Homo sapiens: one gene and its partner. The protein of the gene in region 1 purifies or fractionates together with the protein of each later gene. This does not show direct contact. Each region holds a gene or a part of one and is shown in the gene's direction. Other genes may lie near its edges. The genes, in order: SRFBP1 and DDX10.

Region 1 (7,000 bases):
GCAATGCCACATTTGCCTAGTTTCATCAGAAAATGAGATGTTATAGCCAAATAATATGCCAGCTAATTTAAATTTTATTCCTTCACTTATCAAAGTTTTGAAACTTTGAAATCTTTTTTGATGAAAAACTTTTGAAAATGTTTCATGTATCTTTCTAAACAGAACTTTCTGAAAAGAATATGGTGTTTTTTCTTGATGATCCAGGACCATTATTGTAAACATCAGTCATTTTACTGTCTAGTACCATTTCAGTATATAAGGCTGCTTGCCCTTAAACTGAGTTTCTCCATACTGCTTTTTATTTGATGATGTTGCTGTCTCCATCTCTGTTGCTCACCACTTTTCATAGCTGTTCTGTTATAAAACAGTAAGTTTAACTTTATTTGTAATTCCAATTTGATAAAGGGTATCTTCACATTTTAGAGTGAAGGTTATGGTTAGCTAATTTCTTCAGTAACAGCTATAAACTGTTTTTGCATATATTTACAAGTCAGGGATAGTCTTTAATGAAATAGAAAAATGTGATGTAAAAATTTTTCAAAAATGTCACAGTATGGCAAAGACATAAAAACGTGTGGAGTGTTGAAATAATTAAAATATTTACTTATATTTTCCAAACTTGCCTCAAAAAGCTGCACTTTTTTCCACATTTGAAAATGGCACACCACTATCCCTTTACCACAAAATATAAATCTTTTTTTTTTTTTTTTTTTTTTTTTTGAGACGGAGTCTCACTCTATCACCCAGGCTGGAGTGCAGTGGTGTGATCTTGGCTCACTGTAACCTCTGCCTCCCAGGTTCAAGCAATTCTCCTGCCTCAGCCTCCTGAGTAGCTGGGATTATAGGCGCATGCCACCACGCCCGGCTAATTTTTGTTTTTTTTTTGTTTTGTTTTGTTTTCTAGTAGAGACGGGTTTCACCATATTGGCCCGGTTAGTGTCGAACTCCTGACCTTGTGATCCACCCTGCTCAGCCTCCCAAAGTGCTGGGATTACAGGCGTGACCCACCGTGCCCCGCCAAAATGTAAATCTTAATTTTTGTTATATGAGAGTCATTCTTCCTGTGAAAAGACTTTAGAAATTCTTTATATAGATAATCCCGAAGTGTAAAGGCAAGGTAACCAAGACAAGATATTTCCCATTACAAACAGAATTCTCTTTAAAGGTGGTGAGGGAAATAGGTCCTCATGTGTCTGTAGTAACACTGGATTCTAACAAACCTTTGTTTGATACAGCTACAACCTGGGACTTTCATAATTATTTTATTGTTTGCTGGTGTGACTAAGGAGTATAGTGGCCCTTTGAATTAGTTTTATCATCAATTTTGTTATGTTTTTTTCTTAAGATCAGAGGATTTATCTTTAAAAAGTCATAATGGTGTTTTTCTTCTTTTAGAAATTTCAAAGAACAGGCTCCAAAAACAAGATCCCTAGGTATGTATTCATAGTTGCCTGACCTTCATATGCAATTAAGCTATGTTTTACCAGAGTAAAAGAATGAGAAATTGTTGTTGCTTAATATAGCCTGAATGAATTATGTACCCACAGAAATGTTAACAGAGCATCTTACAATTATCAATATAATTTTTTGTTGTTGGTTTTCTTTTCTTCTGTGTCCTGCCAGAGGGAAAGATATAGACAAAATTTATCAGGAAATATTATGTCTATTTAACTTATCTCAAATTAAACCAACACTTTTTTTAAGTAAATTATGCAAGTTATATCTTAATTATTAGTGATCCTAAACGCTAATGCCATGCCGTTAAACATTGAATAACAAGTATATTACTTTCTTGGGCAAGAGTATAATCAGAATATTTTCAGATTAATTCGTAACAAATCTAAGTTTCATGTATTTGGGTAGAGTGACTTCTCACACAATCCTAGACTTTCACTAACTTAACATAGCAAAAATTCATTTCTCATTCACATCACAGTCCACTGTGATGAATTAGCAGAGAGGCTGTGTTCCACATAGTCATTCAAGGATCAGGCTTCTTCCATCTTTTGGCGTTTTCCTCCTCCAGGTTCCAAATATTCTCCATTTGCCAATAGAAGGGAATGGAGTACATGGAGAATTTTGCAGGTGTTTGTGAGCAAGGCCTGAAAGTAGCAGAAACCAGTTCTACTCACATATCATTAGCCAGAATTCAGTCACATGACCCCATCTAGCCACAGGGGAGCTAAGAAATGCAGTCTTACTATATATCTAGGAGAAAAGAGGAAGTGGAATTTCGTGAACACATAACTTTTTCTTCCAGTGACCAGACTTTCTATCACTGGATGGCCATTTCACTTTTCCTCCTACACAGAGCACACTTACCTCCTTCCCAAGGCAGCCAACCCAAAGTCACATCCAGTCACTGCATCTAGCTCAAAGTCCAGGATCACTGGTCATGGAGTATTTTCCATCAAATCTCATGGATGAGATTCTTCAAAGTCTGGTGACCTTTGTACCAAAAAGAAATTCATACCATGATATACCATGTATCGAGTAGCAGAACAGGGACAAAGTAATGACAATAAAAACTCTTGATAGCTTAAGGAAAAAATGGAAGGCACACAACAGGTCTACTATCTGAAATTCTGCTGAGCAAAGATTATGAAGGCTCTGAGAGGAACTTCTTTATCCATTGTTCTTCATGGTCCGTGTCTAGGGAGGGTCTTTGTTTCGTGGCCACATCTGAGGTGGGTATTTAACATGATCTCTTTGGAGTTTGCCCCAAGTCACTGGTACAAATATAAAATGATGAAGATTGTACAAAGTTCAGCAGAGGTTTTTTCCATCCCAGGCTTGTGATTTCTTTCACTATACACCTCCTCAAAAACTCAGTGGATTTCTGACCTCTGTTTCCTTCAGTCCGTCTGTGGGCTAGTTACCGTACTGAAAATTCTTTCTTTGAGCTAGTTCTCAAACTTGTCTTATTTGTTTGTGTTTTGTTTTATTTTTCCCACTTCCCGCTCTCATTCAGCATCTACTGCATTGAAAATTAATCAGATTTGGATGGGAGTGCCATACATTTAGTCTTATCTCTGCTCTAGGGCTGAGTTGCTGTGGGCAACTTTTCTTAGACTTACAGGTTACTGTTTGGGAGTCAAAGGCTTTTCTAAACCTTAAGTTCCCAAATATCTAGATTCTTTTGTTCTCTCTGTTCTCTTTTGTGTAGTGCATTGTCAAGGACAGCCAGTAATACGCTGATCTTTTTATTCTTTCCAGCCAGTTACCTTTGTACAGCAAACTCCATAGGCTTGTGGCCTGCTTGCCAAGTTATCACTGACAACAGTTTTACCTATTTCTTTGGCACATGGGTTGCTTACTTCTCATTCTCAGTTATCTGTTTCCTTGCTACCCACCACTGAACTGCTAAGCCAATGCCAAATTTTTATGTTATTGTAATGGTACTTCAGAGTACCAATTTTAGTATTATTCATAGTAGACTACCTGCTAAATCTCAGTGGTTTGTCATCTATCAGTCTGTCTGCTTCTAGGAATTTTATTCTGTCTTGTGCCTCTTGCCTCCTCTGGATCCTAGGAGTTCTCTTCATTCATCAGCGATAGAAAAGTAATGGAAGATTGAATGTGAGGTTTTTATGGTCCAGGCCTTTTACTCACATTTTATTGGCCATAACTCAATTAGCCATGTGACCTCACCTAACTGCAGCAGGAATGGAAACTATATTCTGATTGTATGCCTAAAAGGAAGATAATACAGGATTTGGCAGAAACATGTCAGTATGCCCCATTTATACCATATATTCACAAACACAGGATAACTGTAAATATAAGACATACCTACATTTTCACAATGAGACTATCCAAATAAAGGGTTTTTTGTGCTTAGCTTGTATGCTTAAAATATTTACTAGTTTATTTACATATACAACTCTATGTAATATATAAAATAATACATTCATTTAGAAATACTACCTTATTCAAATCTCAGTTTTTATGAAACAGGTTTTTGTTTTGTTTTGTTTTGTTTTTTTTATTTTTATTATTATTACACTTTAAGTTTTAGAGTACATGTGCACAACGTGCAGATTTGTTACATATGTATACATGTGCCATGTTGGTGTGCTGCACCCATTAACTCGTCATTTACCATTAGGTATATCTCCTAATGCTATCCCTCCCCACTCCCCCCACCCCACAACAGTCCCCGGTGTGTGATGTTCCCCTTCCTGTGTCCATGTGTTCTCATTGTTCAATTCCCACCTATGAGTGAGGACATGCGGTGTTTGGTTTTTTGTCCTTGCGATGGTTTGCTGAGAATGATGGTTTCCAGTTTCATCCATGTCCCTACAAAGGACATGAACTCATCAGTTTTTATGGCTGCATAGTATTCCATGGTGTATATGTGCCACATTTTCTTAATCCAGTCTATCATTGTTGGACATTTGGGTTGGTTCCAAGTCTTTGCTATTGTGAATAGTGCCGCAATAAACATACGTGTGCATGTGTCTTTATAGTAGCATGATTTATAATCCTTTGGGTATATACCCAATAATAGGATGGCTGGGTCAAATGGTATTTCTAGTTCTAGATCCCTGAGGAATCGCCACACTGACTTCCACAATGGTTGAACTAGTTTACAGTCCCACCAACAGTGTAAAAGTGTTCCTATTTCTCCACATCCTCTACAGTTTTTTTTAAACTTTTCATCTCTACAGCCACTCTTTGAATATTGTAACAGATTTCTAGAGCACATGTGATTTGTGTAAGATAAGGGTTGTTTTGATTTCTGTCTAGATAATGTTTTGTAAATATTATCCCAAACAGTGCACTGGTTTATATAACATTTTTACATTTGTTTTCTTAAAGAGGTCTTTAAAAGGCTTCTGACAGGCCGAGCACGGTGGCTCATGCCTGTAATCCCAGCACTTTGGGAGGCTGAGGTGGGTGGATCGTCTGAGGTCAGGAGTTCGAGATCAGCCTGACCAATATGTCTCTACTAAAAATACATAAATTAGCCAGGCATAGTGGCACATGCCTGTAATCCCAGCTACTTAGGAGGCTGAGGCAGGAGAATTGCTTGAACCTGGGAGGTGGAGGTTGCAGTGAGCCAAGATCACGCCACTGCTCTCCATCCTGGGCAACAGAGCAAGACTCCGTCTTAAAAAAAAGAAGTCTTTTGACAATGATTCCTAACTTGCAATGGAGAAATTACATAGTCATAGGACTGATTAAGAAGTCTATATTAAGTTTTTTTGTCTCTCTTTTTCTTTCTGATTCCATCTCCTAAGTTCTGTAAGCAACTAAAATGTGCATTGATGCATATCTTTTCATACTAGTGTATCTTCGCCAAATAAGACTTGGTTCAAAATCATGTAAAATGTTAAGATACTATATGGACTAGAATACAAGTTGCCACCTTCATATCTGGAGATTAATGTTACAACTAAAAAAGAACTTTGTCTTATATTCTTGAGTAGACTTAGTACTATTTGCCTTGTAATAACCACTTTTGGTTCAATAACAGACGGGAGTGGAATCAACTTATAGCCTTTAAAAATGAGTAAGCACTATCAGTATTGTCAGACTCAGTGGAGTGTCTTAGCTAAGATGTGAATTTTCTGGCTACATCTGCTTCATGTACACAGATATCATAAGCTAATGATGTTCCTTTGAAAATACATGATGCCCTTCTTTTTTGCCTTCCATGCTAGTACAACAGAGTGATTCCTTTCTTTATGTTGTTATAAATAAGACAGCACAGCATAAATTAAGAGGCACTCAATAAACATCTACTTATAAGTGTTAGAAAGCATGTGTGTCAAAATTGACTACTTGTATATAAATTTTCAACTTCAAACTATTCCCTGTTAGACTTCAGTTTTAAATTGTGAAATATTCCATTTAAGAAAACAAAATTTCTTTTTTTAACATTGGTTTGAAAAAGATGAAATTTACTTCTCCTATATGCTCTTTAAGTATATAGTTATTATTATTTTTGCTTTCTCTTCCTAGATTTTCCACAGAATGAGCCTCAGATCAAGAATCAGTTTAATAAGAAGCTATCAGGAAGACTTGAAAATACAAAACAGCAATTGCAGCTGCCTCTTCATCCTTCATGGGAAGCAAGCAGAAGGCGAAAAGAACAGCAATCTAATATTGCTGTGTTTCAGGGGAAAAAAATTACGTTTGATGATTGATTAGTGCCTCTTTCTGCAAACTTTTCCATCTAAAAAAAAAAATGTTTTTTTTAAGACAGGATCTCATTCTGTTGCCCAGACTAGAGTACAATATTGCAATCACAGCTCACTGCAGCCTCAAACTCCTGGGCTCAAGTGATCCTCCCACCTCTGCCTCCCAAAGGGCTGGGACTGCAGGTGCATGCACTACCATGCCCAGCTTTCTCACCCCAGGCTCTGCAGCTATTACTTAAACTCGTATTTGAATAAGTCTCTTGGGGAGAATTATAGAATGTTTGTTTTTGTATTTTTTTTTAAAGTAAATTCAACTTACGCTTATATAAGCCTTTCACAAATCCAATATGTACTTAAATTGATTTTTAATAATATCCCTCAGACTGTTTCCCTTATGAAGTAATTTGGGGATTTTAGTGATCTCATATTTTCTCTTTAGTGCTTATCATGAAATGTGCTTCACTGGTTCAGCTCTGTTGTTTCCTTAAACATAAATGTCAATATATATTTAAAATAATAATGGAAACATAGGAAATCAGCTATTTAAACCAGATCACCCTTGTTAAAAATCATTCTTGTTAGCAAACTAAAATAGTAACTTTTATTATGGATGTACAGATAAATATTAATTTTATTATAGTTTTAAGTACTTGTGATCATGTACTTTTTGATTCTAAAATAGTTGTCTAGGACAATTTTGGGATTCTTAATTATATTTTAGTTAAGAAAATTGTTTAAATATAGCAATACAACCAATAATTTGTTTTATGTTTCACTGCATATAAATATTTCCATTAAATCAAGAATGTATATTATCTAGTTTTTACTATACTTATTTTAAAATTTTTGAGGAA
Region 2 (12,517 bases), on another chromosome or scaffold:
TGGCGTGAACCCGGGAGGTGGAGCTTGCAGTGAGCCAAGTTCGCGCCACTGCACTCCAGCCTGGGCGACACAGCGAGACTCCATCTCGGAAAAAAAAAAAAAAAAAAAAAAAAGGAATATGGTATATAGTTTTCTGTTGTAATGCTTGATTGAAGAGTGTTGGAGCAGTTTCATTCTTCTAAACTTTCCCTCCAGGAGGTTAACTGACTTTAGGAAGATAGATGTGCTGTGCAATGTTTTGTTTGAGGAGCTCGCTTTGCCTGTACTGTGTCTCTTGCTGGGGATTGAAGAGTGTGTTGGCAGCCTGCCTCCTTCTGTAGGCATTCCATTCCCTTTGAAAACAGCTTTTTAGCTGATAATACCACGAGTGCTAGAGTGAGCTACACCTAATTTTAATGCCTTGTTTGGAAGATTATCTTCTAATTGAGGTTCCTTGCTGGGACAGTATGTTATTTGAATAAACCGTTCTTCTAATGCTGGTACACTGATTCTGCCTCCTTTCCAGTGATATCTGAAATGATTTGTAGGGATTAAGACAATGTTTTAATATTTGTATTTTCAGCATTGGAGGGCACAGAGTAAACACTGCCTGGGCAATGTTAAGAATCATAGGAAAGATGTGTAGATTGTAAAATGAAGTACAACTGTCATCCTTTTACTGCCTAGAGTGTAATTTAAATAAATGAACCATACAAATGCAGCTTTTTCCTTTTGCGAATCATGTATAATTTGGCAGCATATTTCCAGAACTGAGCAGTAGTTCCTGCCTTCAGCATCTGTAATAAAATAATTCTCCTGAGCAGCTGAAATGAAATTCAGAAAATTGGGTTTGTGCTAATAAAGAACATCAGTAATGAATATTTGAATAATGTAAAGTTAGCAAAATGTTACTTATTGTGGCTTCAAAGCATGACAGACATTTCCCCTGTGTTGAAATAATACTCCTCCTTCAGTAACCCCAAAATGAATAGTTATCAGGTTGGATTTCATAGGCCACTGATTTATGGTTAAAACTTTGAAAGGATTGTGCTAACAAGAAATATTTCTCCAACTAATTTCACTCTTTTTTCCAAATTGTGTGTATAGAACTATTTTCATTGTGATCTGTGGTTTGTGGTAATTTTGTCCTTGTTTCTTAAATTGAGATCCCTTGAAGGATGATAGGAAGTAAATTTTCTTCCTAAAATTGATGTGGTTGGTGATGCTTTACTGTGTTCAACATTTTGGAGGTCAGATAGTAGTATGTGTGGTGTGTGTGTATTGGGTGACTTTTTTTTCCTTACCAATTGAAATGCTTACAAATGTATATTCGATTCAGGGACAGCCTCTTCAGGGCATATTTCGTTACAGAAGGAATGATGGCTTTTAATTAGAAGCGATGATTGAATTCAACCCTGAATTACCAAGGATGAGCTGGGCAATACAATGTAGAGAAGAAATGGCTGTGTCGTGAAACAAATGAGTTACCCTGATTCCTTTTTCTTTTTTTCCAGATAAATGTAAATGAAATCACAAGATTTTCAGATTTTCCCTTGTCCAAAAAAACATTGAAAGGTAAGTATATGGTGATCTTGGGATGTGTTATTGGATTTCTTGGCATTTTTGATAAATGGGAGAAGATTTAGAGGGTTTAGCCTGAAAAATCTTATTTTGGCAAATTTTGATATCATGAAAACCAATGAAAATAAGCAATATTCAAGTTTTAACAGTACGTTATTCTCATTCTTTCTGGACTAATTAAAAGAAAAACAAGTTTCCAGCATCCTCTGAATAAAATGAAATCTAATTTTGTTAGTTAAAATAAGCAAGGGAACAAACCAAGATGCAACACCCTTTGTATCTGTTTGCTAGGGCTGAGATGACAAAATATCAGACTGAGTGGCTTAAACAACAGAGACTGATTTTCTCACAGTTCTGGAAGTTGGAAGTCTGGGATCAAGATGTTGGTGGCATTGGTTTCCTCTTAAGGCAAAATAAGGGAAGGATTTGTTCCAGGCCTCCTTGGCTTGTGGATGGCTGCCCTCTTGCTGCCTTTTTATTTTTGGATACATAAAAATTGTATATATTTGGCCAGGTGTGGTGGCTCATGCCTGTAATCCCAGTACTTTGGGAGGCCGAGGTGGGTGGATCACAGGGTCAGGAGTTTGAGACCAGCCTGGCCAACATGGTGAAACCCCGTCTCTACTAAAAATACAAAAATTAGCTGGGTGTGGTGGCGGGCACCTGTAATCCCAGCTACAGGCTGAGGCAGGGGAATCACTTGAACCTGGGAGGCGGGTTCATGCCACTCTACTCCAGCCTGGGCAACAGAGTGAGACACCGTCTCAAAAAAAAAAATTGTATATATTTACAGTGTATACATGATGCTTTGAAATATGTATATGCTGTGGAATGGCTAAATCAAACTAATTGTATATGTGCTAATATTACCTCATCCTTTTGTGTTTAGAACTCTTAAAATCTACTTAGTATTTTTTCTTTTTTCAGTATATTTTAATTAACTATAGCAGTATATATTAAGAGAGATATATAATAGATCTCTCTTTTTTTTTTTTAAGATAGGGTCTTGCTCCGTCACCCAGGGTGCAGTGCAGTTGTGTGATCTTAGCTCACTGCATCCTCAGCCTTCTGGGCTCAAGTGATCCTCCCATCTCAGCCTCCTGAGTAGTTGGAACTGCAGGTGCATGCCACTGTGCCTGGCTAATTTTTAAAAATTTTTGGTAGAGATAGAGTTTTGCCATGTTGCCCAGGCTAGTCTTGAGCTCCTGAACTTTAAGGAATCTGCCTGCCTTGGCCTCCCAAAGTGCTGGGATTATAGGCGTGAGCCACCACGCCTGGCCTACAATAGATCTCTTGAAGTTCTTCCTTCTAACTGAAATTTTGTATGTTTGATGAACATCTTCCCACTCTCCTTACTTCCCCCAGCTTCTGGTAACTACCATTCTACCCTCTGCTCCTTTGAATTTGGCTTTTTTAGATTCTACATATAAGTGAGATTATGTGGCATCTTTATTGCTGTGCCTGGTTTATTTCAGTTAACATAAGGTCCTCCAGGTTCATCCATGTTGTTGTAAATAACAGGATTTCCTTTTTAAAGGCTGAGTCATATTCCATTTGTGTGTGTGTGTGTGTGTGTGTGTGTGTGTGTGTGTATGTGTATGTATATAACATATATTTTCTTTACTCATTCATGGACACTTAGGTTGATTTCATATCTTGGCTTCTGTGAATAATGCTGCAATGAACATGTGAGCACAAATACTTTTCAAAGTAGTGGTTTTATTAATAAACCCTTTGGATTATACCCAGGAGTGGAGTAGGTGGATCACAGAATAACTTGTCTCTCTTCACATGGTTTTCCCTCTGTGCATGTGGACCCTTGGTGTCTCTTTGTTCAAGTTTCTTCTCATAAAGACACCGTTTGTGTTGGATCAGAGTCCACCCCTATGGGGCTCTAACTTAATCAACCTCTTTAAAGGCCCTGTCTCCAAGTATAGTTATGTTCTGAGGTACGAGGCATTAGGGCTTCAACATAGGAATTTTGGGGGACACAACTCACTTAGCCTATAATACCATCCTACAGGGATCTTCTAAAGTATAATTCTTCCCTCCATGTTGCCAGGTTTGCAAGAAGCTCAGTACCGTTTGGTGACTGAGATACAGAAGCAGACCATTGGATTGGCTTTGCAAGGTAAAGATGTACTTGGAGCGGCCAAAACTGGATCTGGCAAGACTCTGGCTTTTCTTGTTCCAGTAAGTACATTGTCATTGGGTCAGACTGTCTGTTATACAATTTTATAACATTCTGTGCCCAGATGCAGATTATATAAAGAGATGTTTTCATGTTAGATTTCATGATAGATTGGCTAGAATGCGAGCTTCATCAAACAGGAGCCACATGTGTGTCTTGTTCTCACCATTTTCCCCAGGTTCTAGCACAGTGCCTTGCATGTGGCAGGCACTCAATAACTTACTGAATGAATGAACTATTGTGCCTTGACAAGTCATTACATTCTTGATGGAAGTGGAGTGCTCCAGTATGGCAGGTTAAAGTGGTTCTGTGCTGCAGTAGGACTGGTGGGAGACAGTTTCTGCTCTCACCCTTGTGAGCCTGCCAGTGGCATTTATACTTGCCACCTTGTTTAGGATAAAGCTGAAATATGCTCAGTTTAAGGAGCTTTAGGCATTTGTTGAGAATTTTCTGGGACATTGCTATCGGTCTTTTATGGCAGCAAAACAGTAGAGCTTCTTAGGCTTTCACTTCCATCTCTGTTACGTTGGTCTCCTAATTTTTCATTCCTATAAAATGACCCAGAAAAATCTCATTTTAGTTTTTGTTCCAAATATTGCAAAAACCACTTTTCTCTTAAATCCTAGTGTGTTTTTGCCCCCTTAAAAAAAAAGGCTCCCTATAGCTAGATAATTCAGTTACTATATAACTACAGCAGCTACATGGGTGAAAGTTTATTTACTTATTTTTATTTTTTTTTGAGATGAAGTCATGCTGTGTTGCCCAGGCTGGAGTGCAGTGGTGCAATCTTGGCTCACTGCAACCTCTGCCTCCCAGGTTCAAGCGATTCTTTCTGCCTCAGCCTCCCAAGTAGCTGAGATTACAGATGTGGGCTACCACGCCAAGCTGATTTTTGTATTTTTGGTAAATACGGGGTTTCATCATATTGGTCAGGCTGGTCTTGAACTCCTGACCTCAAGTGATGCACCCGCCTCCTCCTCCAAAGTTCTGGGATCAGGCGTGAGCCACTGCGCCCAGCCAAAAGTTTTAGTGTGGTTATTTAGAAAATGATAAATATTATTCTTAAGTGTGTTGTAAAGGTCTTTGGGTTGTACATACCTTTCACTGATAGCCAGTTTCCTGATGGCATGGCTCTGGCAGCAGCTGAACTACCGTGGGGTTTCTTTTCCCTTTCCTCTGAGTTGGGGGTGGATGGTTCTGATGGAAGATAAACAAAATCATTTACTTTGGACTGGATAAAACTTGAGTGGTATGCCTTCTGCTTGGAAGATCCCTTTGATTTGGAGGGGCAAGGTTGAGATGCAGGTCAAAAAGCTGACTTCTGATGACTTACTGAACATGAATTTGCTGTCTTTTTGAGGTGCTGGAAGCCTTATATCGTCTGCAATGGACTTCAACAGATGGGCTGGGGGTTCTCATAATATCACCTACGAGAGAACTGGCCTATCAGACCTTTGAGGTTCTCCGAAAAGTAGGAAAGAATCATGACTTCTCAGCTGGTCTCATCATTGGTGGAAAGGTTTGTCCTTTTGTCTATGTCCTTCCTTTCCTTCTGTAACCTATACTGGAGTACTGTGGCCGATGACAGGGAGGCAGCAGAGACTTCATCTAAACAGACTGACCTAGACCAGGGCCTCATGGGATAGTAGCACTTGGTGTGGTCGCTGCTATCTACGATCTGGTTGCCAATTTTGCAGGCCCAGAAAGTCCATTTTTTTTTGTCGGGGAATCTGAATTGATTAGCCTCTCTAAGACATATTTACTCTAATCCTGTAAAGTTATTTGTTGATATTCATTGGGAAAGATATTTCCATATATGAACTAGTACCTTTTAATAAGGTATCTATCTAAGAGGCTGAATAATTCAGAGGATTGCTACATCAGCAGCGTAAGAAAGGAAGGTAGACTCTTTAGAGGAATGTTTATAGTAGGTCAAGATAAGACCTGCTGCTCACTTTTGTTCTATCTTATAGCACATCTAGAATGCCTCTATCTGCTAGAATCTCCACTAGACTGTGAGGATAAATACTTCAATTTTTATGCAAACATGCACAAAAGAAGAAAGAATAGCATCACAAACCCTTACGTACCTGTTGCCTAACTTTAACAATTAACAACATTCTGTTTTTTCCCACCGCCTCCAGGACTGTGAGAAGTGGTTCTTGTATCAAGGAGAGAACCTCGGCTTTTTTCAGTTCACAAAGTACAGTCCTTGAGCGGTGTCAGAGTCTGTTCAATGTCCCTGGGTCCTGAATTAAAGAATGAGAGTGATTCCAGTTTATGTCAGTTCTGATCCAAATAGGAAATCCTGACTTGGAGTATTCATTTGATTATTTTTTTTTCTTAGCCTCAAAATCCTGGGTATGAATAAGAATTTAGAACTCTGAGCTCCTTATGTCTTCCTGTAAAGACTTTTATTTAGCCCAGAAATGTGGATATGGTTCAGAAATACAAGGGAAAAGTTATGTTTATTTCCAAGAGTATCTAAAATGTTGTGATGAAATGCCCATGCAGATGGCTTTTATAGCTTTGGTACACAGGCTGCTGAGAGTGATGTGTCTGTGTAATCAAAATAAATAACTGTTTTCAGGATCTAAAACACGAAGCTGAGAGGATCAACAACATAAATATACTCGTGTGCACACCAGGTCGGCTTCTTCAACACATGGATGAAACAGTATCTTTTCATGCTACCGACCTCCAAATGTTAGGTGAGTCAAATCAATTTCTAATTTAAAAAAAAAAAAAGCTCAGACTTAGGAGAGAGCCCTTATACATTTTTATGATAGAAATTTTATGTTAGATAAATGTTATGATTCAAAACAAACTTAAAAATTACTGAAACATTTTGGCATTTGGGCTCTAAACCCAGAAAGTAAAAGTAGACTTAAAAAAATCAGAAGAATGTATGTACGCTTATATGTGAAATTAGGCACGTTAGTATTAGACCATGCCAAGGTTTTTAACACCTGCTTCTAATAACTTGAAAGGTCAAATTGGCATTTTTTTAAATGAACTTTTTCTTTTTTGCTTGGGAATACTACCTGATGTGTATTTTTAAATCAACTTTATCTTTGAACATTTTTGATTTGTAGGAAAGTTGCAGTGGAGAGTTCCTGCATTATCCTTCAGCTGGTTTCCCCTAATTTTTTTTTTTTTTTTTTTTTTTTTTATACAGAGTTTCGCTCTGTTGCTAGGCTGGAGTACGGTGGCATGATCTCGGCTCATGGGTTCAAGTGATTCTCCTGCCTCAGCCTCCCGATAGCTGGGACTACAGGTGTGCACCACCACGCCCAGCTAATTTTTGTATTTTTAGTAGAGGCGGGGTTTCACAATGTTGGCCAGGATGGTCTTGACCTCTTGACCTTGTGATCTGCCCACCTTGGCCTCCCAAAGTGCTGGGATTACAGGCCTGAGCCACTGTGCCCAGCCTTCCCCTGGTGTTAATGTCTTACATGACATGGTACTTTTATCAAAACTAAGGTTAACATTGCTACATCATATAAATTCCAGACTTTATTCAGGTTTTACCAGTTTTTCCGCTAATGTTCTTTTTCTGTTTTAGGATCCAATCCAGGATACCCATTGCATTTAGCCTAATGTATATTTTACATATGATAGTTCAACTTGCATTTTCCTTTTTCAGTTCTTGATGAAGCAGATAGAATCTTGGATATGGGCTTTGCTGATACCATGAATGCTGTTATTGAAAATCTCCCCAAGAAACGTCAGACTTTACTTTTCTCAGCAACACAAACTAAATCTGTAAAGGACCTTGCACGCTTGAGTTTGAAAAACCCTGAGTATGTCTGGGTTCATGAAAAAGCAAAATATAGGTATGTACTCTTTGAGTCAATCAAGATAAATGTTTTTTACTTTTTTAGTTTAGGGATTTGGTATTTTAAATATCTGTTTTCTGGGAATTAAGACATTCTATGAGTTATTGGTTATGCAAAGCATAGTAAATATACCAGTTAAAATTACCCAAATTCTGCATATATCTTTAAATGTCAGGGTACTTGAATGTAGCATTTCCCAAAATGTGGTCTGGGAGGGGAACAAATGTTTTTCCATAGATGTTAAGAGGTATTTTACCATTTGCCAACACTACCTCTTAATAAACGAAGGGAGAAGGGATGAAATAGCAAATGGTGAGTCAAAGTGAAACAGTTTTATTTCTATTTCTCACAACCTTTAATATTTTCAGGGACATTGTGATTGTTGAAAGCAGTGGGAGGGAGGTGGATGTAGCTTGCTACATTTACCAAATTTTTTGGGTACGGAATCATCCTTTTTAGCAGGATTATGCAGTACTAATGTGTTATGGAACACATTTTATGAAGTGCATTAATATTTAGCAAAATACCTTTCAGTCTAAAATTCTAGCAACTATTGTTTTGTCTTGGTCTCATTAAAAACTAGAGCTTAAAGTATATGTGTTACAGTAAAAGTATGTATGTTTGTGATATGCAAGTAGTTGGGGAAATTTTTATTTATCTCTTTTTTTCGAGACAGGGTCTTGCTCTGTCACCCAGGCTGGAGTGCAGTTGTGTGAATATAGCTCACTACAGCCTTCAACTTCTGGGCTCAAACAATCCTCCTGCTTCAGCTTCCTGAGTAGCTGGGACAACCAGGGCATACCACCATGCGTGGCTAATTTTAAAATTTTTTGTAGAGTTGAAGACTTACTACATTGCCCAGGCTGGTTTCAAATTCCTGAGATCAAGCAATCCTCCCACTTTGGCCTCCCAAAGTGTTGAGATTACACTCAGGCATGAGCCACTGTGCCCAGCTGGGATATGTTTTAAGTTGTATTTTCATATGACAATTAGAAGCATATATATTTGGTATGAATCACTGCAGACTTCCAGGAGAAATGTTTTCCAGTAAATATAAAGTTGGATTTTTTGTTGAAGATAGCAATGTAAATTCAACTCTTCTATTATTTATATCTTAAAATTTTTATTTCTTCTTGCTCTGAAATGTTAGCCTAAAAAGAAATAGATTTGGAAAATGAATTGTGTTATCTGGAAATTCCTTAAATAGAGAAAATATGAGTATTCAGGCCCATCTTGACCTTGTATAATGTATGTCTAGGATTTAAAAAGCCTGAGACGAAGAGGCCAGATTCTTTGCTTCTGGGTGATCTTGGGGAATCTGAGTACTGGTATCTTTGACTTTCAAGAACTTGGGAATGGAATAGTAAGATATGTGAGGTATAGTTTTTTTCCCTTGGCTTACTTTCGAGTGGACATTGATCTCTTAAAGAGTTGAGATAGCTATGAAAATTTTTGTGACAATTAACAATTAACTTGAAAATGTAAAGACTGCTTGTCTAGGATTTTTCACTTTTCTCTTTTTTCTGTTTGCCTCCAGCCTATTTTTAATATTCATCAGACAGATTTTTTTAATCATTAGATGTCTCTAAGACCTTTCATAATTTATGCAAGTTAATTTGTACGTATTATTTCCTATCCCCAATTTCTGTAGGTAAGAGTTGGTTATTTTCTGTAAATTACAAAGTTTTAGAAAAAAACTACAAAGACTTTGATATTATTTCACAAATGATTTTTGAAACCCGGTCCCATCACTTATAAAAGTGTGGTGGACAAAATTTTCAGAAAAAAATTTTGGAAGGTAGACATGTATTGACATAATTTACAAAACCTCAGGTTATATGATAATGGCTGCAGTATTCTAATATTCCAAATTTATAGGAAACATAAAAAAGCAGATGCTCTTAGGAATTTCATCTAATGTCAATGTTAGCTTTTCCACTTTAGTAGCTTATCAATGTGGTTCATACACCAGGAGAGATAATAATCAAGAATATTTTAAGGTGTTAGAGAGTATCTACTCTCAAATTGTGAAGGACACAACAACTAAAGAAAAATTAGATCTTTCTGAAGTTGTAAGTCAGAGCATACTTAGAAAAAGTATACTAGTGTTTTCATTATGTGGTTATATATAGACAACTGGTATTTCTAATGATTTTATTTTTGAGAGAATATGCCTTTGGGCCATAGCAATTTGCTGTTTTTCAGTGACAAGTTGAATTCTATGGTGGATTATGAAAAATTTCAAATTTGAGATATGTCATGAGCTTATGTTATTAGGTATATACAAATTTAGAATTGCATTGTCAATTTGAAACATTAATCATTATGAAATGCTTCTTTTTTGCATGTATGTGCTTATTTTCTGTGGACAGTCTGTCTTTTTTGGTTTGGTTTTTTTGCCTTTTTCTTATTGGCTCGGAGGAGCCCTTTAGATAAATTAATTATTTATTTGTAATACGAGTAGCAAAACACTTCCCTACTCCCGGTGTTTTTTCATTTTATAAAATGTTTCTTTTCATCTTTACTAATTCTTTTTTGCCTTAAAGTCTAGTGTTTTTTGAGATGGAGTCTTGCTCTGTCGCCCAGGCTGGAGTGCAGTGGCATGATCTCGGGTCACTGCAGCCTCTGCCTCCCGGGTTCAAGCAATTTTACTGCCTCAGCTTCCCGAGCAGCTGGGATTACAGGTGCCCACCACCATGCCCACCTAATTTTTGTATTTTGAGTAAAGACGGGGTTTCACCATGTTGGCCAGGCTAGTCTCGAACTCCTAACCTCAGGTGATCCACCCGCCTCGGCCTCCCACAGTGCTGGGATTACAGGCCTGAGCCATTGTGCCTGGCCAACTTTAAGTCTAGTTTGATATTAGTCTACCTATAGCAACTTTCTTTGAGTTAGCATTTGCATGGTGAATCCTTTCCCATCCTTGTACTTTCTACATTGTTTACACCCTATGTTTTTAGATTTGTCTTTGTGAGTAGCATATTTTTAATCTGGTATGATAATTGCTTTTGACAGTTAATTTAATTATTATTTGGGTCCCTTTACTTCTTCCTACCTTTGTGTCTTCATTGTTAAGTATTTTAATTCCACGTGTATCTTAAGCCCCATAAGCCACTGTTATCACTGTTTGCAACATCAGTATTTATTTAGACTTACCCAGTTCTTCTTCTTGTATTGTCACCCTTCCACCTGAGAATTTTTCTTTTGCTCAGATAATTTCCTTTTTAGTGCAGACTTGTTAGTGAAACAGCGTTTTGACCTTTCTGAAAACCTCTTTATTTCATCTTCATTTTTTTTTGAAGCCTATCTTGGCAGTTTTTTTTTCCTCTTCAAAGACATCTTTGTTGTACTCTAAGTTCCATTATTTCTGTCAAAGTCATCTGACAGTTCTCTTGTTCCTTTGAAGGTAATTTTTTCTTTATTTCTGGCCAGCAAATGCCTTAAGGTCAGGTTGTCTTGATCTGGTCTAGCCTGGCAATTAGACTCTGGGGTTATCCTATTTCTGGTTTGTCCTGAGACTTGGGGTATAATCTTCACAGATGGGGCATAGCCTTTCTCAGGGTCTCAACCAAAAGACTGAGGTATCTACCAGGGCCCCTCTGTCTTGGCAAGTTGTGAACCTCGTAGCATTGTGACCCTGCCAGAATCTCTGCTCAGTTCTGTAGCTTCCCAGTTGGTTGGTTTTTGCTTGTTTTTCCTCATTTTGACTTATGTGTGCTCTGTTTAGGGGTTGGCATGTTCCTCAAGGGTAAATTGTATGAAAAATTTTAGATTCAGTTTTCCTTCTCTCTGGGACTTGCGACTGATGTGTTTAGGCTTAAGGCTGCTACCTTGTTTCTCCCCTGTCTTGCAATCAGCAAATGCTTTTGGGGAGAAAAGTGAGGTTGTTAACAGAGGGCTTGGCTCAGGGCATTTCTGTTTTTTCCTTTAGCACCTCAAGTCCTACCTGCCTTGGTAGCTCTCAGATGCTGCCAGTCTTTTTGTTTTGTTTTGTATTTATTCCTGCTTTTGTAGTTGCTATTCTAGGCCAGAGGGTTAATCTGATACAAGCAGCTTCTTAGCCCTGCAATTTTAGCAGCTGATAGAAATTATTGCCTAGCTCCATTATTTCATCAGGGTTTGCAAAATTGTGATATTTTAATTCTATTATTTCTTCATTAGTTTAAATACTTTCATATCAAAGAGCTTTCACATGAACTATGTGATTCTGAGGTACAGTTCTTACAGGAAAGCCAGAATATTAGAATGTATGCTGTAACACCAATGAGTTGGTTCCCTAGTATTTTCTGAAGGTTAGCAGTATTTGTTTTTGGTGGGGGGTGGAGGTTGTGTGTACTAAAAATGAACTCAGATTTAATGATAATTAATGATGAATTAATGATACTTAACTCATAGATTAAACATCTTTTTATGTCCTTGAATCAATAGAAATTTTTATATTTAATATTCATCTTGTGTCATCCCAAACTTCGCTAGTAGATGCTTCAAGTTATTATCTTGATTCTTCAGATGCATTTTAGTAATCTTTGGACTCCTTGCTTTCTGGTGTTCTAAGTTTATCTTATCTATTTCCAGTTCTTTTTTTTTTTTTTTTTTTAAGGTTATAGATTTTCTTTTTTTTTTTTTTAATTTTTTTTTTTATTATACTCTTAAGTTTTAGGGTACATGTGCACATTGTGCAGGTTAGTTACATATGTATACATGTGCCATGCTGGTGCGCTGCACCCACTAACTTGTCATCTTGTCATCTAGCATTAGGTATATCTCCCAATGCTATCCCTCCCCCCTCCCCCGACCCCACCACAGTCCCCAGAGTATGATATTCCCCTTCCTGTGTCCATGTGATCTCATTGTTCAATTCCCACCTATGAGTGAGAATATGCAGTGTTTGGTTTTTTGTTCTTGCGATAGTTTACTGAGAATGATG

What was found.
Region 2: the proteins of SRFBP1 (region 1) and DDX10 purify together in Homo sapiens (affinity purification with mass spectrometry; 4 studies listed by BioGRID and IntAct, with this or other methods). This does not show direct contact.

What each region holds. Positions count from the first base shown.
Region 1 is NC_000005.10:122,020,975-122,027,974, forward strand, and holds part of SRFBP1 (serum response factor-binding protein 1), read left to right. Parts: intron 1-1,395; coding exon 1,396-1,433; intron 1,434-5,967; coding exon 5,968-6,152; 3' UTR 6,153-7,000. UniProt on the Homo sapiens protein: May be involved in regulating transcriptional activation of cardiac genes during the aging process. May play a role in biosynthesis and/or processing of SLC2A4 in adipose cells.
Region 2 is NC_000011.10:108,671,974-108,684,490, forward strand, and holds part of DDX10 (probable ATP-dependent RNA helicase DDX10), read left to right. Parts: intron 1-1,493; coding exon 1,494-1,554; intron 1,555-3,622; coding exon 3,623-3,753; intron 3,754-5,111; coding exon 5,112-5,270; intron 5,271-6,341; coding exon 6,342-6,462; intron 6,463-7,397; coding exon 7,398-7,587; intron 7,588-12,517. UniProt on the Homo sapiens protein: Putative ATP-dependent RNA helicase that plays various role in innate immunity or inflammation. Plays a role in the enhancement of AIM2-induced inflammasome activation by interacting with AIM2 and stabilizing its protein level.